Linked DNA regions of Homo sapiens. The protein of the gene in region 3 purifies or fractionates together with the protein of the main gene of each other region. This does not show direct contact. Each region holds a gene or a part of one and is shown on either strand. Other genes may lie near its edges.

What was found. The genes of interacting proteins can lie anywhere in the genome.
Region 1: the proteins of EPB41L2 (region 3) and CLNS1A purify together in Homo sapiens (affinity purification with mass spectrometry; 3 studies listed by BioGRID and IntAct, with this or other methods). This does not show direct contact.
Region 2: the proteins of EPB41L2 (region 3) and SETD1A purify together in Homo sapiens (affinity purification with mass spectrometry; 2 studies listed by BioGRID and IntAct, with this or other methods). This does not show direct contact.

The regions. Positions count from the first base shown.
Region 1 is NC_000011.10:77,634,790-77,642,501, forward strand, and holds the start of CLNS1A (methylosome subunit pICln), read right to left. Parts: upstream 3,006-7,712; 5' UTR 2,926-3,005; coding exon 2,801-2,925; intron 1-2,800. UniProt on the Homo sapiens protein: Involved in both the assembly of spliceosomal snRNPs and the methylation of Sm proteins.
Region 2 is NC_000016.10:30,953,774-30,960,758, forward strand, and holds the start of SETD1A (histone-lysine N-methyltransferase SETD1A), read left to right. Parts: upstream 1-3,980; 5' UTR 3,981-4,191; intron 4,192-4,196; exon of another isoform or gene 4,197-4,351; intron 4,352-4,400; exon of another isoform or gene 4,401-4,611; intron 4,612-4,671; exon of another isoform or gene 4,672-4,703; intron 4,704-4,763; exon of another isoform or gene 4,764-4,787; intron 4,788-4,943; 5' UTR 4,944-4,958; coding exon 4,959-5,108; intron 5,109-5,317; coding exon 5,318-5,413; intron 5,414-6,985. Other genes in the region: ORAI3 (protein orai-3), read left to right, coding at 1-71. UniProt on the Homo sapiens protein: Histone methyltransferase that catalyzes methyl group transfer from S-adenosyl-L-methionine to the epsilon-amino group of 'Lys-4' of histone H3 (H3K4) via a non-processive mechanism.
Region 3 is NC_000006.12:131,060,245-131,067,998, forward strand, and holds the start of EPB41L2 (band 4.1-like protein 2), read right to left. Parts: upstream 3,002-7,754; 5' UTR 2,911-3,001; exon of another isoform or gene 2,898-2,910; intron 1-2,897. UniProt on the Homo sapiens protein: Required for dynein-dynactin complex and NUMA1 recruitment at the mitotic cell cortex during anaphase.

The DNA.
Region 1 (7,712 bases), on a different chromosome or scaffold from region 3:
CAAATAATGTTTAATTTTTTTCAGAGACAAGGTTTCACTCTGTCACCCAGGCTGGAATGCAGTAGTGTGATCACAGCTCACCGCAGCCTCAACTGCCCAGGCTCAAGTAATCCTCCCACCTCAGCTCCCCATAGTAACTGCCACTACAGGCACGTGCAACCACGACCGGCTAATTTTTGCAGTTTTTGTATTCTTTGCAGAGATGGGGTTTTGTCATGTTGTCCAGGCTGGTCAAGAACTCCTGGACTCAAGGGATCTGCTCACCTTGGCCTTCCGAAGTGCTGCGATTACAGGCGTAAGCCACCTTGCCCAGGCTAAGAATTTTTTAAAAGCTGATAAGAACTTAAAAAGAGTTATACTTCCTTAGTATGAGAATTGTATTGTGGTTATACAAGATAATGTCCCTGTTCTTCTGAACAGGAAGTGGAAAACGTCGACAATTCTCAAATGGCTCAGAAAAAAAAGAAAAACAGAGACATAAACATGGCAAAATGTTAACTAATAAATCTTTGTGAAGGGTGTATGGGTAGTAATAACACAACTTTTCTTTAGGTTTGAAATTTTTCTTTTTTTTTTTTTTTTGAGACAGTCTCACTCTGTCACCCAGGCTGGAATGCAATGGCATGATCTCGGCTTACTACAACCTCCGCCTCTCGGGTTCAAGCGATTCTCCTGCCTCAGCCTCCCAAGTAGCTGGGATTACAGGTGCACGCCACCACACCCGGATAATTTTTGTATTTTAGTAGAGACAGGGTTTCACATTGTTGGCCAGGCTGGTCTTGAACTCCTGTCATCAGGTGATCCACCCGCCTCAGCCTCCCAAAGTGCTGGTATTACAGGCGTGAGCCACCACACTGGATCTTAGGTTTGAAATTCTTCTAAATGCAAAAATCAATACAGGACTGTCCCTCAAAAGGAGTTATAATACTGAAAGAAGCGTCAACATACAGAAATGTCATGAATAAAAAAGGAATGCCTGGGAACTAGGAATGTATCTGTGCTCCATCTTCCACCACTTCAAAGAAACTGCTTTCCCCAATTATCAAAGATCTCCTTGTCAATACTCAATATATGCTCTTCACATTTTGTTTTGACTGCTCCTTCCTCCTTTCTCAAGTTTCTTCTTTCATGACCCACCCGTCGGCGTATCCCTAGGGTTCTACACTTGGTCCTCTTCTCTTCTGAGATATCTAATCCATTTCCATGAGTATACACTAACACTTTAACGACCTCCAAACATCTCTCTTTAATACCACTTTCCCAAGATACACATTCTTTTTTTATTTTTATTTTTTTTTTGAGACAGGGTCTCACTCTGTCATGCAGGCTGGAGTGCAGGGGCACAATCACGGCTCACCGCAGCCTCGACCTCCTGGGCTCAGGTGATCCTCCCACCTCAGTTTCCTGAGTAGCTAGGACTACAGGCCGCCACCATGCCTGGCTAATTTTTGTATTTTTTGTAGAGACTGGGTTTCGCCATGCTGCCCAGGCTGATCTCAAACTCCTGGGCTCAAGCGATCTGCCTGCCTCAGCCTCCCAAAGTGCTGGGATTACAGGTGTGAGCCACCGCGCCCGGCCCAACACGGTCATATGTACAACTACTCCACACATGTCCTGACCAAACTCATTATCTGCCTCTCACCTCAATCTTGCTTTTCCTCCCATCCATATGTCCTATCTCAGTTTCTGGCCTGAAGCCTAAACCTTGTTCAATGTCTAAATTTCCCTTTAAAGCAGAGGTTCTTTACAGTTTTTGTGCTCTGGATTCTGTAGTAGGCAGAATTTTGGCCCCACGACCTTCACTTTCTGGTGTCATGCGGGTGAATATGTTATATTACACAGCAAAAGGGACTTCACAAACGTAATTAAGGTTACCAGTCGACAGTAACATAGGGAGATTATCCTGGATTTTACAGGTGGTTCCAAAGTAATCACATGAGCTCTTAAAAGTAGAGAATTTTCTCTGGCTGTAGACAAGTGATGGAGCAAAAGGGGAAGCAACACATATCTGAAGGGCAGGAAAGATTCGATGTGTCATTACAGGCTTCAAAATAAAGAAAACTGCATGTCAAGGAAACAGGGACCTCTGTTCTACAACCACAATATTTACGGTAGATCTATCTGACTGTCAAAATACCAAAGTGCTCCACGTGGCCAAATAAAAGGGCAATTCCTTCCAGGACCCCAAAACGGGAGTCTGGTCCCTCTGCATATGACCCCTGTCTGTGTCGAGTTAAGGGTGTTCCTCTCCTTACTATACCTACAGAAGAAAATCTTTATTGTGTAACCAAACTTTAAAAGTCCTCCACAGTCGGCTCTGAAACTACGTATCCCAGAGAGGGGAACATCTCCTGCATCTGTTCATCCGGAAAGACAGGCACACTTCAGACCCTTAAAACCAGACCGTGCGTTAAGGGCAACGCACGCGCCAGACCTCCAGTAAATAGGCGAGTTAAAAAAAAAAAAAAAAGAAAATAAAAGAAAGAAAGAAAGAAAAGAAGAAGAAAGAAAGAGAGAAAGAGACAGAGAAAGAGAAAGAGGAAAAAAAGAAAAAAAAAAAAAAAAAGCACAATCCATAAGGGGAAATTCCGGCCGGAGAAAACAGAGAATGGAAGACTCCGGAGGAGTACTAGAAAAATCGAGCCTTCCACCCGCTACAGGTATCCCTGAGGCGTCGGGCACGAGACCCCGCTCCCAGCAGGCCTCCAGGCCGCCCCTTGCCCGGCTCCTTCGCACCGCCTGCTCCAGCAAGGAGGAGGGCGGCGCGCAGGAGGCCAGCGCTGGGGACCAGGAACCCTACCTCTCAGCGATGTAAAGGGTACCAGTGCCGAGGCCCTTCCCGTTCAGCACAGCCTCAGTGTCTGGCTGCTGCCGCAGGAGCCCCTCCGCTGGCCCAGGCGGCGGGAAACTTTTGAGGAAGCTCATAGCAGCAGAGTGCGGCAACACAGGCCCTGAGGGAGTTGGAGCACAGCAATGCGTGCACCACACCGCCCGCCCTGGAAGAGGCAGTCACCCCGGAAGAACAACTTAGTCTGCCCCGGAATCTGAACGCCGTCGACCATAGAGATGAGACATTCTAGGAAAAGCGGCGGAGGTCGGCTAAGAACGTGTGGAGTTTGACCGCGCAACACCCTTCCCCTTCTTCCTCGCCATTTCTGAGGCTTTGGGCTTCAATAACTGAGGGTTCTGTGGGAAGTCCCTCAGGATTGTCACAGTGAAACCACCACTGCAAAATTATAACTGAGACACTGAAAGCGATCTGACCTACCCAAATCCATGTTGTTTCTAACCTCCAAACTGTCCTTGTTCATTGCTGGATATAGGCTGAACTAACTTTGGGAGGAACTTAGTTTACAGTTTGAAGTTTAAAACAAAGATGATGACAGCCTTTTCCCAAAACAAACTTCCTTCTTGCCTGGGGACTGGACTGCCTTTGTAGGACTAACAAATCAGCCACAAGATTAGAAATTATGGTTTAGATTAGAAATTACAGCTGCAAGCTACAAGATTCTGACCCTCCCTAAACTGCACCTAAGATCGGTGCTTGAGATATGTTGCAGACCCTGCACTTGATGGATCAGCTGGCACCACCAGATGGATAAACTGGCTATGTGATCTTGTGCCCCCTCCCCACCAACCCAGGAACTGACTCAGCGCAAGAGGACAGCTTCAACTCCCTGTGACTTCATCTCCCACCCAACCAATCAGCACTCTTGACTCACTGGCCTTCCCCAACCTGCCAAATTATCCTTAAAAACTTGGATCCCTGGCTGGGCGCGGTGGCTCACGCCTGTAATCCCAGCACTTTGGGAGGCCGAGGCGGGCGGATCACGAGGTCAGGAGATCAAGACCATTCTGGCTAACATGGTGAAACCCCGTCTCTACTAAAAATACAAAAAAATTAGCCGGGTGTGGTGGCAGGCGCCTGTGGTCCCAGCTACTGGGGAGGCTGAGGCAGGAGAATGGCGTGAACCCGGGAGGCAGAGCTTGCAGTGAGCCGAGATAGCGCCACTGCACTCCAGCCTGGGCGACAGAGCGAGACCCCGTCTCAAAAAAAAAAAAAAAACAACAAAAAACAAAAAACAAAAAAACTTTGATCCCTGAATGCTCTGGGAAACTGATTTGAGTAAAAATAAAACTCTAGGCCGGGTGCAGTGGCTCATGCTTGTAATCCCAGCACTTTGGGAGGCCGAGGCGGGCAGATCACGAGGACAGGAGATCGAGACCAGCCTGGCTAACACGGTGAAACCCCGTCTCGACTAAAAATACAAAAACAAAATTAGCCGGGCGTGGTGGCAGGTGCCTGTAGTCCCAGCTACTCGGGAGGTTGAAGCGGGAGAATGGCGTGAACCCGAGAGGCGGAGCTTGCAGTGAGCCGAGGTCGCGCCTTGGCACTCCAGCCTGGGCGACAGAGAGAGACTCCGTCTCAAAACAACAACAACAAACTCTAGTCTCCTGCACAGCAGCTCTGCGTGAATTACTGTTTTTCTGTTACAATTTCCATCTTGATAAATCAGCTCTGTCTAGGCAACAGGCAAGGTGAACCCATTGGGCCATTACAGCAGCAACCCTGTTACAACCCTGTAACCCAGTTACATACAACCCTGTTGTAACTGCCCAATGGGATCACCGTGCCTGCTGCTTAGACAGAGCCTATTTATCAAGACAGGGGAATTGCAATAGAGAAAGAGTAATACACCGGTGGCAATGGCTCACGCCTGTAATCCCAGCATTTTGGAGGCCGAGGCGGACGGATCACCTGACGTCGGGAATTCGAGACCAGCCTGACCAACATGGAGAAACCCCGTCTCTACTAAAAATGCACAATTAGCCTGGCGTGGTGGCGCATGCCTGTAATCCTAGCTACTCGGGAGGCTGAGGCAGGAGAATTGCTTGAACCCGGGAGGCGGAGGTTGCGGTGAGCCGAGATCACGCCATTGCACTCCAGCCTGGGCAACAAGAGCGAAACACTGTCTCAAAAAAAAAAAAAAAAAAAAAAAAAAACAAAGAGAGAAAGACTAATACATGGAGTCCCTTGCCAAAGGATGCATAGGACATAGAGACCACTCATCTGGAGCTCAGAAGTCTCCCAACTCGGTTATGATGTTCTGATCTGGCCACCCCGTCCCCATCTCCTGGGACTGTTCACATCTCAGGTATACACAACCAAGTAGCATACATCAATCTAGGTCCTTATACTGCCCTAGTGCACAAGCCACGTCCCCACGTGTCAGGTGGGCAGATAAGTATAAAGGGTTAATAAGGGCAGGGTGAAGAGCTAGCTACATCAGTAAGGAGCTGGGGCACTGACTGGAAAGGAATTAATCCACCAAAATTGCAATTGATGTTTTGTTTCTTCGTTAGGCACTAAAGAGTATAGTAGTAATAGGAAGAAAGACTTCCAAAATCGTCATAATGGTAGCTAAAGTTAACGAGTGTTCTGTGCCAGGCTCTCTTCCAGGCACTTTACCTGCACTTTGCTTGCATCATCTCTTCATTTACTCTTTGCAAGTTTGTGAAGTTACTATTATTGACCCACTTTACAGATGAGAGACCTGAGGCATTAAACTCAAGAGCAATAATTTGGCCATGAGAGAACAAGTGAAATTCAAGTAAATCCCCTTGTAAACTCAGTATGGTAATACCTTTGCAGTAGGACTGCTGAGGCTGGAGGACAGGATGTGTGGGGTAGTTTTGTTTCTATCTTCTCAACAGTTAGGCTGGCATTAAATTTTTAACGTGTTTGAGATCAGCCTGGGCAACATAGTGAGACCCCCATCTCTACCAAAAAATAAATAAATAAATTAGCCCAGCATGGTGGCATGTGCCTGTGATCCCAGCTACTTGGGAGGCTGAGGTGAGAGGATCATTTGAGCCTCAGAAGTGGAGGCTACAGTGAGCCATGATTGTGCCACTGCACTCTAGCCTGGGTGGCAGAGCAAGACTCCATCTCAAAAAAATTTTTTTTTCCTTTAACGTAGACTAGTTTGTTGGTAGTGTTAAAGTGAATTAAATATGGGTTGAGGAGGGCTCTGTACTTCTATATTTGAGTCCTTGTGGATGCACTGTAACCTAAGTTAATAGGGAGATAACTTTGAAAACCTAACTTAGGAGTATTCACCTGTAACAATAGTTGAGCCTTGGCCAATCCCAGCAGCCATACTTCAACAACTCATACACTGTTGAGTGTTCAAACTGTGTTCAAATAAGGCAGATGCCAACCTGTAACCAACCCAGCTGTTTCTGTACCTCACTTCCAATTCTTGTACATCACTTCTCTTGTTTTTTGTCTATAAATTTGTTGTGACCATGAGGCATCCCTGGAATCTCTCTGAATCTGCTGTGATTCTGGGGGCTGCTTGATTTGCAAATTATTCATTGCTCAATTAAACTCCTTGAAATTTAATTCTGCTGAAGTTTTTCTTTTAACAGATGGTGTCAGAAGTGGGATCTGAAGTAGAGGTTGTAACGATCCCCAGGAGTGCTGAGTGAACAAGCAAGTTACCTGCAGAATCCACTGTGTCCTTTGATCTGTCACAGCAGCTGGGGTTCCTGGTAAGTTCTCTCTCAGATTTCAGAGCTCCACAGATTAGTGTTTTGAGCTCTCTGAGTTCCTTTTTTTTTTTTTTCTGAGACAGAGTTTTGCTCTTGTTGCCCAGGCTGAGTGCAATGGCGAGATCTTGGCTCACTGTGACCTCCGCCTCCTGGGTTCAAGCAATTCTCCTGCCCCCTCCTGAGTAGCTGGGATTACAGGCATGCACCACCACACCCAGCTAATTTTTTATATTTTTAGTAGAGATGGGGTTTCTCCATGTTGGCCAGGCTGGTCTGGAGCTCCTGACCTTCAAGTGATCCACCCACCTCAGCCTCCCAAAGTGCTGGGATTACAGGCATAAGCCACCACACCCGGCCAGCTCTCTGAGTTTCTTTGAGCAAATTTCTTTTCCAAACTAGGTTTAGAAGTTGCGACAGAAACTAGACTGGGTCCAGGATCAAATTTGATCTGGTAATTAACTGGCTTGAATCCAGTTAGAGGCCTTTTATATCTGACTAGGCCAGAAAGAAACTGGTAGTACGTGGTGGTATTGTTGGGGTTGTAAAATTTGGCTTTTGAAAATTCACAGGGATTTTTCTGTTCCTCCCCTTTATTTCATTTTTTTTGCTTGCTTAGGTAGGAAAAAATCATTGGCTAAGCTGATCAAGGGAAACTGAAAGTGAAGCCAATATCTTAGGTAAAAATAGATCCTTAATTTCTGGAGGACTGAGTTTCTTCCAGCTTATACCTGCATAAGTGTTAGGCCTGGGAAGCAGCAGAGCCTTACAGAAATGGCAAAATTTTACTAAACATAACTTACAGTGGAAAGTTTCAACTGAACAACAATGCACTGAAGTGCATTTAAAAATGAGGGCTCCCAAATTAGTCTCATCTAGGGATGCCTATTAATATGCAGAAGCTTCTAAAAAGATTTAAAGATGACAGGGCCCATCCAGGGGCAAGTTTGAGTCTTGCCCGTTTGATATTGGGTGCTAAGTGGAGTGGCTAATGTCTATGTTTTGTCACATGTATTTTGCTCTGGCCAATGTGGAAAAAGATAAATTCTCTTTGTGTTGCAACTTGGCCCCCAGGGCTATAGTGCAGTGAGCCAGGTTACTAGAACAACTCAGGGAAAAGGCAACCAGCAAAAGTGAAAGGATTTCTTACCAATCAGATG
Region 2 (6,985 bases), on a different chromosome or scaffold from region 3:
ACAAGACAGACCGCTACAAGCAGGAACTAGAGGAACTGAATCGCCTGCAGGGGGAGCTGCAGGCTGTGTGAGACTGGTGTTAGCCACCGCTCACTGCAAGCACTGCCTCCCTCCGGGGTCTGTAAGAGGCCGCAGGGGCCTACAGACCTCATCCCCCCATCCCCTGGCTGGAGCCACTTCCAGTGGCCACTCTCAGGCAGAGTTCAGATTCCTGCCCGCAGGGTCCTCTGGGCTGGGCCTTGGGGCAGCTCCCACATTCCCAGGGATTTTCCCCATCAGTCTGTCCCTTGGGTTTTGCAAGCTACTCTGCACCTGGGCTGGCCTCAGTTGAAGGATCATGCAGTAGATAGAGGGGAGGCAGGGAGAGCTTGTGGGACCTTCAGTGCTGACTTTAGCCACCATTTCCATTCCTATACAGGATGTGAAGGTCAGAAGGCAGCCAATTGTTGGTTTAATTTTTTTTTTTTTTTGAGACAGTCTGTTTCCCAGGCTGGAGTGTAGTGATACAGTCACAGCTCACTGTAGCCTCGACCTTCCAGGCTCAAAAGATGCTCCCACCACAGCCTCCCAGGTAGTGAGTAGCTGGTACTACAGGTGTGTGCTGCCACACCCGACTAATTTTTTTGTAGAGACGGGGTTTCGCTGTTCCCAGGCTGGTCTCAAACTCCTGGGCTCAAGTGAACCTCCCGCCTCGGCCTCCCAAAGTGCTGGGATTCCTTTCTTTATTTCTGTAGAATCTATTTTATGGTTGGCATTTTGGGGGAAGATTTCGATGGGTTCCACATTCTTGCTTTAGTTGTTGTAGAGGGATTTGGGTGTTTCTACCCAAGGCATTGGTCTAGCTTTTCCTACAATGAACCTATCTTTGGAGGTTCAAGCTCCCCACCTTCCCCCACTGTGGTGACCTGTGGCCACTTGCAGAAGGGATGGTGCCTGACCCACTGCCCTAGCCCCACGCTATGCACCAAACTTGTTCTCCCCGTCCTGGTCCAGGGCTGGGGTCTTTAGAGACTGACAGCCTCTGCCCCAGGCCTGAGTCCTTAGCAAGGGTTGGGTAAGGAGGTTTTAAGGGAGAAGGTCCAGTCCTTAGCCCTTGAAATACAAAGCTCTTCTGACACTGAATTTGGATGCACCTTGTTTTATATAATAAATCGTGTTTCACAGATGTCCCTGTTGCTGTGAAGGGGATGCAGGGCAGGCCTTCTTAGGATAACTTTACTTGTTCCCAAGAGCCGGGTGGTGGCAAGTTTGGGTGGACAGGACCTGGGAGGGGAGTGGGTTTCAGGTGTAACCCTGTCAGATGCTAACAAGGGCCAACAGCTTCTGAATGGGGAGAGTTATTCCAAGGCTACAGGCTTTGAACTCTTGTCCCTGAGTTCAGAGTCTCTATCTCTTCCACTGAGTATTTATTTATTTAGAGACGGAGTCTTGTGTTGCCCAGGCTGGAGTGCAGTGGTGCGATCTCAGCTCACTGTAACCTCCGTCTCCCAAGTTCAAGCAATTCTCCTGCCTCAGCCACCAGAGTAGCTGGGATTACAAGTGTGTGCCGCCACACCCGGCTAATTTTTATATTTTTATTAGAGACGGGGTTTCGCCATGTTGGCCAAGCTGGTCTCAAACTTCTGACCTCAGGTGATCCACCTGTCTGGCCTCCCGAAGTGCTGGGATTACAGGCATGAGCCACCACACCCAGCCCTCCCTGAGTGTTTAGTATAAGCACTCTTTTTTTTTTTTTTTTTTTGAGACCGAGTCTCGCTCTGTCTTGCACTGTCGCCCAGGCTGGAGTACAGTGGCATGATCTCGGCTCACTGCAAGCGCCGCCTCCTGGGTTCACGCCATTCTCCTGCCTCAGCCTCCCAAGTAGCTGGGATTACAGGTGCCCACCACCACGCTCGGCTAATTTTGTTTTTGTATTTTTAGTAGAGATGGGGTTTCACCGTGTTAGCCAGGATGGTCTTGATCTCCTGACCTAGTGATCCCCCTGCCTTGGCCTCCCAAAGTGCTGGGATTACAGGTGTGAGCCATCGCGCCCAGCCGAGACAGTCTCACTCTTTTGCCCAGGCTGGAGTGCAGCTGTGCAATCTTGGCTCACTGCAGCTTTGACCTCCCAGGCTCATGAGCCTCCCACCTCAGCCTCCCAAATAGCTGGCACCACAGGACGTCCCACCAACCCAGCTAATTAATTTTTTTTTTTTTTTGTAGAGAGGAGGGTCTCACTATGTTGTCCAGGCTGGTCTTGAACTCCTGGGCTCAAGTGATCCTCCCACCTTGGCCTCCCAAAGTGCTGAGATTACAAGTGTTAGCCACTGCACCTGGCCTCAAGTTTCTTTCTTGAGCAACTACCACATACTAGGGGACTTTCATAGGTTATCTTATTTAACTCTCACAACACCTTAAGCGTTAAGTCTTTATCATTTTCATTTCAGAGATAAGGAAACAGGCCCAAGAAGGCTGAAGATCTTGCCCAAAACCACACAGCTAGTCCATGAAACTGAACTTGGACTATCTACCCCTCACACGGGAATCTCTCTTTGATTTGAGAAAAGGAACCAGTGCCTTTCAACTGGAACAGAAAGGAATCTGATCTCAACACCTATGCCTCCACGTAAATTATTTTTTTCAGCCTTATTTCCCTCAAAATTGTAGAGTCCTAATCTTCTTCTATCTTGTGGTGTGAGACCTTGGATAAGTCTCCCTTCCACCTTTTCCTATTACTTAAAATGGTGAATTTGCATAAACCAGGCTCTAAGGGTCTTTTCTGCACTGTTCGGATGTGTACAAATTGACATCCAAGTTTAAAGGAAGACTCTGAAACTTAGGTCAATGACTTGCCCAAGGCCATATAGCGAGGGCCTGATGTACACATATCAGGAGCTTGGGGCATCCTCAGCTCAGGAAAAGGGACCTCCTGGGAGTGCCTGCGCCCACACGGGATCAAAACGGTGCCCAGCCTTCAGAAACCTCAGCCCGAGTTCCAGGGGTAGGCCTGGGCCGCTGCTGCCCTTGTGCGGAGGCATCCCGTGAGCATAGGGCGCCATAGCCAAAGAAGCGGGCAGTGGGACCATGACGCCAGGAGGACACACCAGTCCAGTCCCGTTCCTGTAGGACCTCGTTTATTATTACAAGGCCCATTTAAGGGCACTTAGGCCCCACTAGGCTCATCAGAAAACCTTGAGGCGGTCCCTGGATTTAACCACTAATGGTGGGTTTGAGTACGGCAAAGTAGGGCACCTTCTACAGGCCTCACTCTCCCCATCTGGCAAATGGGCATCCTAAGCAGCCAGACACCCAAGGGCAATAACGGGAAGGAAAGGTACCCTGCATTTATGTGCGAGGCGGGGCAAACCGCCTGAGTCACCGCTCACGGTTGTGTTTTTCCACCTCCCGGCCGTCCCTCCCATCCGGGTGAGTCCTCGTGGGTCCTCCCGGAGGCGCCCCCTAGTCCCAGGCTCTGCACGCCCTGGCCCCGCCCCTTGACTCGGCCCCGCCCACAGCGGAATCCGCAGATTCGCCAGGTCGGATCCTCAGAATTCCTCGGGTCCCTCGATACTCGGCTGAAAATTCTCATCGGACTCTGAGAGGAGCGCTGGGCTGGAGGCATTTTCCCCAGGGACAGAAGCGGGCTATTCTCTCACTTGGGCCAGTAAGAAAAATCCAAAAAAAGTTGTCGACTCTGCCAGCAGGGATTGGCTAACGGGCCGTTATTTTCTTGACTCCACCAAGGCGGATGAAGGGGAGGCTACGGCTGAGGCCGGGAACAGTGGCGAATCTGCAGCCTCTCAGAATTTGGCAGTGCAAGGAAGGGACGGGGAAGAGAAGCAAAGCGGCGCGCATCCTGTCCAGCGATTCGCCCCGCCCGCCCGGTGAATCTGCGTCTGCAGAACGCGCCACTGAAGGTTCCCCAGCGCTGGCTGGCCTCCTCCCCTCCGCCCCGCCCCTTTTCCTCAGGGACTAGTCGCAGCTTTCGTCGCCGCCGATTCGTCAAGGTCCCGGGCCGCAGCATCTAGATCGTCGTGGCGAAGCCGACTCTCCGGGGGATGCGGCCAATCTCCAAGCTCCCTGGGCCGCAACTTCCGAGCCTCCCAGGGCGCCGGCCGAGGCGAAGCCGCTACCCTCGGCCCCGTGGGTCCCCCGGCAGCGCCTGTGGCGAAAGTGCGAATGCAGACCCTGTGCCCGCTGGGCCTCGCGCAGGTGGCAGTGGTGTTTGGTGCGCGCGCCGGGGAGGTGGTGGTGGGGGGGCGCCGCCGCCGCCACCGCTGCGGGGCCGGGTCTCGCGCTGCCGCTGCCGCCGCCTCGCGCCGCTGAGGTGCCGCGCGAGGTGGGGGGAGGGGGAGCCGCTCGCCGGGAGCGGGTGAGTGGGGCCGCGCGGCGCGCGTGCGCGGAGACCTGCTGGGGGGGGTGCAGAACGCGCCGGGGCGGGAGGAGAGGGCAGCGGTGCACGTTCCCCCCACCCCCCCGCCCGGATTCGGGGTCGAAGCCGGGTCTCGGGCTCGGTCTCGCGGTGTTTCCAACGCCCCGAAGAGGTGCCACCTTTCGGCCGGAGGATCGGGGCGCGGGGAGGAGAGCGGGTGTGTGGGAGCCGTGGCCGGGCTCGGCCCGGGCCGCTGGCCGGTGAGGAGGCGGGAGGGGGCGGGGCCTGCAGGGGGCGGGGGAGGGGTCTTGCTCCGAGGCCAAGTGGGGCGCGCGCTAGGGAGAGCGGGAAGGTAAGGGGGCTCGAGACGGGCCTGGGGGCCTGACAGTAGAGTTGGGAGGTGGAAAGAGGCTGGGTTGTTGTGGCGAAACAGAGGGTACTTGGGGGAGAATCCGGGGGAGCCCCGGGTCAGGGTGAGGGTTGGAAACTGGAGTGATGGGAGAACCTGGAATCGGGGCTAGCCAATGAGGAAAGGCAGGGGAGTCAGGCCCCAAGTCCTGATCCTTCTTGCGTGTCCCTCTTCCCCTAACAGTGTAAATGAGCAAAGATGGATCAGGAAGGTGGGGGAGATGGGCAGAAGGCCCCGAGCTTCCAGTGGCGGAACTACAAGCTCATCGTGGATCCTGCCTTGGACCCTGCCCTGCGCAGGCCTTCTCAGAAGGTGTACCGCTATGATGGAGTCCACTTCAGTGTCAACGTGAGTGCCCGGGTCTTTGGTTGCCATCCGGGGAGCTCCAGGCGCCCGTCCTCTGTGATTCTGTTCAGCACCTAGAACGGTAGCCTGCCTTCTTGAAAGTGGGCAGTTGGACCCAGCTCTTCTGCATGTGTGTGTCCAGATGGGCTGCTTGGAGCTCCCTAGCCTGGATTCACCCTGAGCTCTCTTTCTGCTGCTGCTTTCCTTCCTAGGACTCAAAGTATATACCAGTCGAAGACCTCCAAGACCCCCGTTGCCATGTCAGGTCCAAAAACAGAGACTTTTCCCTCCCAGTCCCTAAGTTTAAGGTAAGTGTCTGCTGGGCTCCTGGTGTGGTAGTCCTAAGAGGGTGTGGAGGATGCGTCTTGGCACTATAGCTGAATAAAAGGGTTTCCAATGAAAGGATCTCAGCCAGATCTAGCAACCTCTGAGGCTGTGAGACTCAGTTGTTTTGGATAGGAGGTACACTTAATCTTCCAGAAAGGTGCAGGTCAGGTGTCCTAAGTGTATCCCTGGTGGCTGGGGTGTCGACTTCTTGAAGGGTGAGGTAAAGACTCTTTAGCTGCTATACCTATCACTGTATATTCGTAGACAGTGCATCATAGCACACAAGAGTGGGATCTCCCAGTTCCTTGACAGTCAAGGGGAGTGACAAGGCCACTGCCTACCTGGGTAGCACTATTCCCCGCCTCTCATTTGGCGATGTCATTTCCCTCTTGTTTCCTTCGAGGACTCCTATTCTCCACCCTAGACAAGATATTCTTCAGGCCTTGAACTGGGCCTGGAACACTGGTGGTTCTTCATTTCCTTCTCTGATTCTTTATTCTTCCTTTCTAAATAAATTGTTTGTGGGGTCCCTTCATTCTTCTTCTTCTTTTTTTTTTTTTTACTTTGTACACTTCACTTGGACAATCTCTTTCACACCCACAGCTTCAACTATTACCTAAATGTTGATGACTTCCAAGTATCTGTTTCCAGCCAACATCTCTAGGCTTGTATGCCTGGTAGGGGGACAGTTTCATTTGGAGGCCACACATGTTTCAGATTTAAGGGATTTAAAACAAATTATCTACCTCCTTAACCTACCTTTTTCATTTTCCCTCTACTCATATGTGGCAGTACCATCGACTCAGCTGTACAGCCTGGCAGCCTGTGATTCTCTCCTTTTCTCTCTCAGTTGGTCACCGAATCCTCCTGGCTCTTTTCTTTTTTATTCTTCATCTTTCTATTCTCATTGCCACTTAATGTAGACCTTGGTATTCATTTCACCTGGTCTCCTTGCCTTCGTTCTTGCCTCAGTTTCTCCTCTGCCTTGCTGTCATTTGTCTCTTTGGCTTCACTACGCTGCTGTTTTCCTTTTGTTGCCAAGTCCATGTTTTGGGACACTGACATGTATGGTTATTGACCTGGCCAAGCCTTATCCTCCGCCTTGACACCACACCCCTGTGTTACATCCACACCATAACGCTTTGCGGTTTTTCAAAAACACCAAGTTGTTTTATATTTCCATGTTCCAGGGGTCCTTGTCATTTGATGAATTGTTAATCCCCAAATCTCAGTAAGAATGACACCATCTTTATGAATTCTTCCCTGATCATACTCTGTACAAAAGTTTCCTTCCCTGGGCTCCAGAACACCATGTATGCGTCAGCTGCCACTGGGTCGTGTTGTGTTTGTATGTGCATGTCATGCTGCTTTTCTGTATGGGAATCTCTTCCTTTCTATCTCTGTATTTCCAGTGCCTCGTTCATGGTAGTTACCTAGTAAAGGCTGAGCTAGGAAATCATCGCCCTGTAGCTCGTTCTCTCCACGTATATTTATTCCTCAGTGTGTACATTTCTTTCTTTCTTTCTTTTTTTTTTTTTTTTTTTTTTTGAGAC
Region 3 (7,754 bases):
TATAAACCCTATATTCCTAAATGAAATGGCAAAGATACAACCTTTGTAGTTCACCAGCCACAGTAATATGAGAGGGGTGATTCAGGGCAGAACCTGATGTTAAACATAACTGTACAATATTACTAATTACAGAGAAATTGTACCAATAAATATTTTGGTTGTGGACTGCTTTGTCATCTTTGCAAGTATTTTTAGTTGAAAGCAAGTGGTTGGGTAGTACACGTGGACATGGTTCTGATTTTTAAATACCTATTTTTACATTCTGGTCACTGGTTAGGTTTTCTAAACTCAATTCCTTAGAACTAGTAATTTGGAAAGGGTAAGCCACAAGAATGTTACGTTAAGAAGCCAAGGATCTAACTAGCTCAGCAACTCAGATCAGCACAAAACTCATTTGGAAACCTCCAAGTGCTAGCATTATCTAATGATGGACCCAGGCAGTCAGTAAATCGTTAAGAACAGGTATGAAAGTGAGCAAACTGCCCTAAAGCTATCTCCTGAAAAACAGCAAGAGATATCTGAACTTCCTTCTTTTATATTTAGATGGTTATTTTTTTGGTGGCCTCTCTTCAGATTCATCCCCTAAATTAAATTTGCTTCTTTCTACTTGGACTTAAATTTCAGATTTGAAATATACACACTTAGTTGCTACAAAATGCTCCCTGGCAGTTTACATTTTTTACAAAAGTTAGGAAAAATTTTACTGAAATTATAGCTTTAACTGATTTTTTAAAATCACTTTTAATCTTTTTTAAGGATCACCATGCAACGTAGATATATGAAGAGTTCGAGGGACGTGGCTCAATTCATCCACGAATTTTCTTTCGAAGGTTTTTGCAAAAAGTGCTCTCAACTACTTGGACTAGTGGTTAAAGATTAAAGAACTGTTATGACTAAGTCTTTCTTACAGAGGGATGTTTTAAAAGGAAAGAAACCGTCCCTTCCCGTTACTCTAAATGAGCAGCCTCTTGTTCTCGGCAGTCTGTCTGCACACAAGACCACTACTGACTTCAGTGGGAATTCTGCCCAAGAAGTGAGGAAGACAGGATAGGATTAAATTAGCGCTAAATCCACACCATTGTTCCAAGCCATTACCACTTGTACAGTTCTCCAATAACCTCCAAAGAATAGATATCTGAAGTTTGATGGTGGTTCTTAAATTGAATTAAAAGAATGACCACTCGAGCTCTGACAGGTGACACAGCATAGCTCTTCAAAAGTTGTGTCAAACTCACAGCCTAACGGATGGAGCCAGTTGGCCCTTATCACAATTCAAGATTGCATTGCAATGCAGCCCCCATCAGTGGCTGCAACAGCCACCCAGTGATTTCTCACAGCAATGAGCCTGCAAAGGGAAACTGAATAGGATTAAGCACTATTCGTTCCCCCACTGAAACCTGTTCAAAGCTTGAGAATTCTAAATCCTAGCCCCTGCAGCATAGAAACTGACTCAGTTTCCCTCAACTGCTAAGTCCAAGGTGAAATCTGACAGAACACCAACTGAAATGCTAATTCTCAACAGCGTTATAAAGAGACCAGATAAATAATGTATTCCGTTGAAAAAAACAATAAAAACGTAGGGTGGGGGAGGAAATAAAGACTGAAAAACTGAGGGGAAAACCGCGAAAGTCGTTTTTTTAAAACAGCTTAAATAACAGTAACAAGAGGAACAAGACGCCTGGCACACACATGCCATTTCAGAGGCAAGAAGTTCAAGAAACTGGGGAAAGATGTGATTCAGAAAAGCGAAAATATAGCCACAGCTCCTCTAGATTCCACCTTCTCTCCCATCCACCCAGGGATCTTAAAATTAAGGGCAGCTGTGGTGTTGATGGGGCAATTCAATGAAAGACTACCCGGGTCCGTAGGGAGGGCTCCATACGCAGACCCCTCCCCAAAATAATAGACTCTAGGCAGTAGTTCTTCTCACCAAACCTCATTTTATTTATACATATATATAAAAAAAAAAACTTGACCTCAGGGGAGGTGAGCGATCTAGAGAAGCATAACTGATGTCCCACCACAGACCTCAGGCTGCTGGGGGCAGCGTCTGCGCCTGGGGATGGCGTCCCCAGACGCCGACTTCAACCCTGTCGCGCTCCTTTAGGTTCTCCTCGCCCTTCCCCGCTGCTCACCTAAAAATGCTCCCAACCCTCGGCCCCCAGGCGCAGGAGGAGAAAAAACAAGCCATCTGTGGTGAGATGGCCTGGGTGTGGGAATTGTAAGGATCGGAGCACGAAACACGCGTCCCTCTCCGCAGCTCCCAGACGGCGCAGGCGGCAGCTGGGGGCGCGGACGCGAGCCTACAGCGGGCCCGACCCGCACCGCGCGTGGGGCTGGCGCGCCGCCCTCGCCCGGCTTCCCGCAGTCCCCACGCGCGCGGCCGGCCCGCGCTTCCCCTCCTAAAACCTTCCTCCTGAAGGGCGACGCCGCGGCCGACCCCCTCCCCGCGGGGGGGATGGAGCCGGATTTTTCCCGCTGTTGCTCCACGGGGCCCGGACGCGTGACCTGAGCCCACGGCACCCCGGGGGGGACGGCGTCCTCCCCGTGCCCCCGCCTTTCCTGGCTCCGCCGGGACGCGGCCCCGGTCCCCCGGAAGAGGGAAGAGGGGGACCGCGGGGAGCAGCGAAGCCGGGATCCGGCCCGGAGCAACAGGACCCGGACCCCCGGGCAAGAATCGGGTCGGGCAGAGACCGGGAAGGAAAGGAGAGAGGGAGCCGCAGAAAATCCCAAAGCCGGGCCCCCTCTCCCCGCCCCCCATCCCGGTGGGACCGTCCCGCCACCGCTTCCTGCCCGGAATCAGCTTCCCAGCTGCAGCCAGAGGAAAAATCTGAGCCGCCCCTGCAACCCCACACTGACCAGTCGCCCGGCCCGTGCAGCCCCGCACGCCTCCTTACCCCGACGCCGTACCTCAGGAGCTCGCTCGCCGCGGGACCCGTCCCTCTTCAGTCCCAGCCGCCGGCAGCCGCGCCTGCCTCCTCCCTCCGCTAGGTTTCAAATTGAAATTCCCTGACTGGGGCCGTCAGAGGACTCTGAGGGCCGGCCCCGCCCCCTCGCGGCGGAAGCCCCTCCCGCGACCCCGCCGGACGAGCCCCCGGCGCGGAAACCCCCGCGGGCGGTCCCGCCCCCGACGCCCAGGCCCCGCCCCTGCGCGGGCGGGGGACCTTTCCCGCGGGATTCGGCAAGCGCGGCCGCGGAGACCCGGGGGTGGAGGACGTCTTTCGCCCTCAGGGCAGCCCGGATGACAGCTAATGCGCCTGGGCAAGGCGTTCTCAACTGCGATTCCCGGCCTTAAATGTCCTCTCAACTTTTAAAAGTTATTTATTCAAAGTGCATTTGCTGACTAAACCTTCACTGAGCGCCTTCCTAGAGGTAAACACTGGAGCAGAGCCTGGAGATGCAGAATAAGGAAAACTGGGTCTCCCTCAGTCTAGAGTGGAAAAAGTGCTTTCACAGGAAGGGCATTGAAAAGGAACCATTTATTCTTCCTGTGGGAGGGACAGGAGGGGTTGGGGAAACCCCGTGGAGGAAAGGCCTCCCCAGAGTAAGTAGGATTTCTCTGGGCAGAGGCCTGGGAATCTGGATTGCAGAGCATGACCACGGGTGAAGAAGAGTCTGGAAAAAACCTAGTTTGGGGCTAAATTGTGGAAAGCCACAAGCACACACACGCTACCCTTCTGGTTCTTTTCTTTTGTACAATGAGGTCAATATGTTTCAGATTCAATATATTTCATCTTTTGAAGGTTTGCACGTCAAGCTGGTGTCAAACAACGTGTCCAGCTCACTGCCTCCAGCATCTGCCTCACACGCACCTCTTATCCCTTTTACTCCTCCCACTTTTATTGAGGTCTTTAGTGATTCCACCACAGCCAAAGTCGTCTCCCTTTCTTTCCTAAACAGAACCTTTTCCAAAATTAACAATGTCAAATGAAACCTCAGTAACAATACCTTCCAGTTAACAAAATACATTCACATATTTTATCATCATTTGATCCTCACAATCACCCTATGAAAAAGGCAGGCACGTTTGAGCTCCATTACATCAAAAAGATTTGGGAAGATAAATTATTTGCCAAGGTCCTTCTAGTAAATAATACAAATAATAATAGTTAAGGTTGATTGTGTGCTTTATGTGCTAGGCATTGTTCTAAGTCCCTTACATGTATTAATTTAATCACAATCCCATATGCTAAGTATACAAGTTAAATTTTATAAGGTGTGCTAAAACAGAGCAGAAATCTGATTAGACAGCAATTCTGGTAAAGGAGACCTGGGAATTTAATGAGAAAATACTATTATTTTCTCATAATAAGAAATATGCAGCAGATTTACAACGAAACTAATGAAACAAACTTCGGGATCTCTCATTTTCACAAGCCTTGAAACTAACTTTATAATTTTGTATTTCATTTTGTGTTTTTTAAAGAGTCCCTAAAGTCATATAAGCTTTTGGGCCCATAAAACATTGAACCACCCTGATGGAGCCCCCTTTAAAATGCTAGTGCAAAATAACATAAATATAGGCATAGTTAATAAAATATAATGCCCTTCTCATAAGAAAGGATATGCTTACTATACTCTGCGTTGAAGTACATGAATCACTCCTATATGCCACCTCTTAAGAAGAAATTTTTCCCTCCAAAAGAAAATATTGATAAGCTAAATTATAACCATAAATGGGTGACCTTGAAAATGTGGGAACCAGCAAGATTTAGCCTAAAGAGATGATTAAAGGTGATAAAAAGGTTGTCAAATGTATAAAGGCTATTGTGTGAAAGAAGAATTGAACTCTGTTTTTGGACACAGCCTTACATAGCCCTGGCATTTTAATGGAATGGAACAGATTCAGTGAGGACCTAGCAGGAACTGAGGGCAGAAAAATCAAGTCCCAGAAGCTATAAGGAAGTGAAGAAAACTGATGGAAGTGGCATCATAGAGATTTAGCAAACAACAGGTGGTAGTCCAGACAACCAGGGAAGTCTAACAAGAAGAGAAGAGGGGTTTGAACAGAAAGAAGGACAAAGTCCTGGAATAGGTGACATCCAAAGACTCAGGCAGGCGGAAGCACTGTCAGGACTACCAGGCTGCAGTTCAAGGGCAGAATGTTAATCCCCAGGAAAACACTCTAGGTAGAACAAGATTGGGTCTTCCTGCTAGACACACTGTAGTAACAGGCAAAGGACTGACACAGAGAACAAGAGAAGAATATAGGTACTAGTCCTGAGAGCTACCACATCCAAATTTACCATAATAGCCTCAATCCTGGGCACTATGTGCAAGCAAAGTTAGTCTGGAAGTATGGACTAGAAATGTACCCAGGACCTCCTTAGTGCCCTTACTTACCAACTCACCCCCATAGGCGTGGCCTCTGGAAGAGCTTGATCTCACTATATCCATGAGTCATCATTTTATCTTTGTGCCTTCTGTGTGCCAAGCCCAAACCAGGTTGGAGTGGCTCTGGGTTGAGGACCTGCCCTTCCTTTACGTGGTCCACAGGCAGCAAGACCTGAAAATGCCCTCTCCTACTATTTCTAAGGCATTCTCAAGCTTCATCGTGAATTCATGCAATCCCAGTTCCACTGCCACAGCAACAAACATATCACACAAATGACTGCAGGAGTCACTCTGTCACCTGGCCAACTTTGGCTCAGTTTCAACTGGACTACAAGACCCTGCTTTAGTGACTTAAAACAACCATTTTATTGCTTGTGGTTCTTTGGGGCAGGAATTCAAGCAATGCTCAGCTGGGAGGCTCAACTGTGGATAAAGGATCTAAGATGGCTTCACTCACATGTCTGGCAGTTGGTGCTGCCTGTCAACTGGGGCACCTAATTTCTCCTCCACATGGACTCTCATCCTCCAGACTCTTTCTCTCTCTCCCTCTCTCTCTGTTTCTCTCTCTCTCCCTCTGTCTCCCTTTGTTTTCTGCACGCGCTCCCTCCCTCCATCCTCTATGTGGCCTATCTAGTAGGATAACCCAGACTTCTTTACATGACACCCAGCTTCCAAGAGAACAAAAACAAATGCTGCAAGGCCTGCAAGGGCTTTGCCCAGAAGTCACACAGCATCACTTATGCTCCATTCTGTTGGTCAAAGCAAATCAGAGGGCCAGCCGCAATTCAAGGAGAGGGGTCATAGACTTTGCTTCTTGGTAGGAGGCGTGGAATGTCTGTACAGTGAGGGGGAAAATTGTTGACAGACATCTTGTAAGCAATTCACTACAGGCACCATGTTTTTCTAGTCTGGTATTCAAGTTGGCCCTCAAGCAACTCTTTATACAGATTTTTTATCAAAAGCATCACAGGACCTCCTTTCCATCTAAGACACACCAAGTGATGTCATCTTTGGAAAAGCCACTCCCAACTATGGCTAATAACAGGTATATGCATCTCAAGCCTGCCAAACTGAGGTATTCTCTCAATTGTAGTTGGAGTTTTGCCACACACACACACACACACACACACACACACACACCCTACTTAATTAGGCTCAATGACAGAGAAACAGGGATGGACTGGCTGATTCCCTTAAGCTGGAACAGAGTCTTCAGAGTTGCTCCTCATGACATCTCATAATCAATTGCTCCCTAGAGCTGAAAACAGAAATGGTACAGATCCAATAAAAGTCCCAGAAAAGCTACATTTGGAAAGCACATATGTATATTATTTTAGCGCGTGGTGGCACACACCTGTAATTCCAGCTACTCGGGAGGCTGAGGCAGGAGAATGGCTTCAACCCAGGAGGCAGAGGTTGCAGTGAGACAAGATGGCGCCACTGCACCCCAGCCTGGGCGTCAGAGCCAGACTCCCGCTCAAAAAAAAACAAAAAACAAAAAACAAAAAAACAAAGAGACATCAAAAGAGAAGGCTCCAGGCTCATTCATAGACATAGTCAAAGCAAAGAGGAGACTCTGAAAAGAGCCTAAAGGGCTCTTTAGATTCCTATTTTGCAGGGAATACGCAGAAGTCCTGCTATGGAAAATGATTGAGACAGAACACCAAACTTTAATAAAAGTGGACTGGCATGTGACCACCCCACTCCACTACATGCCTGCAGTCAGCAGACTGCCCACTTAATTAGATGTGGGGATGAGGAAGGTAAAATGACCTTTAAGCAGTGTCATTGGACTTTGCTGGACAGACAGAATTACCCCCACAATACCATAGACAACTTCTGATGTGGTGTGACAAGGCGAGCCAAATTCCTTGGGCCCACGCTGGGGAGCCTTGCCTGAGGAGCATAATTTGTAAGTGGTCTCAGCAAATGGTGGTAAAATCCATCAACAGCGACAATCAGAGCAGCAGAAGAGGCTGTTGAATTACAGTACCAGGGGGAAAATTAGAAGAGTAATCCCCTGGATTATATCCTTGAAATATTTACATAGCCCAGACTTGATTGGCTAGTTTGTAAAATAGCCCCCGGAAATAGTGGCGACAGTGGGATTGGAGCTGGAATGTTGCCGTTTCTAAGCAAACAAATTCCTCCCTTTGGAAAATGGACCATCTTAGAGAGTGGTCCTTCGTTTATTCAAAACAGATGTGTGGCGGAAGGTTGGTATTAGCAAAGTACCATTCTTCAGTTTAGTTTTGTGTGGTTTCCCAAGGCACACAAATGTGTTCTACTTATTAGAAAACACTTAGAAGGATAGGGGTTTTAAGGTTATATGTATGCTCTTACTGCTTATAATCCCACTCTCTCCAGAGGAAAACCTTCCAGGAGGGTGCAATAGCTGAGAAGAAGAACACACCCAGAAA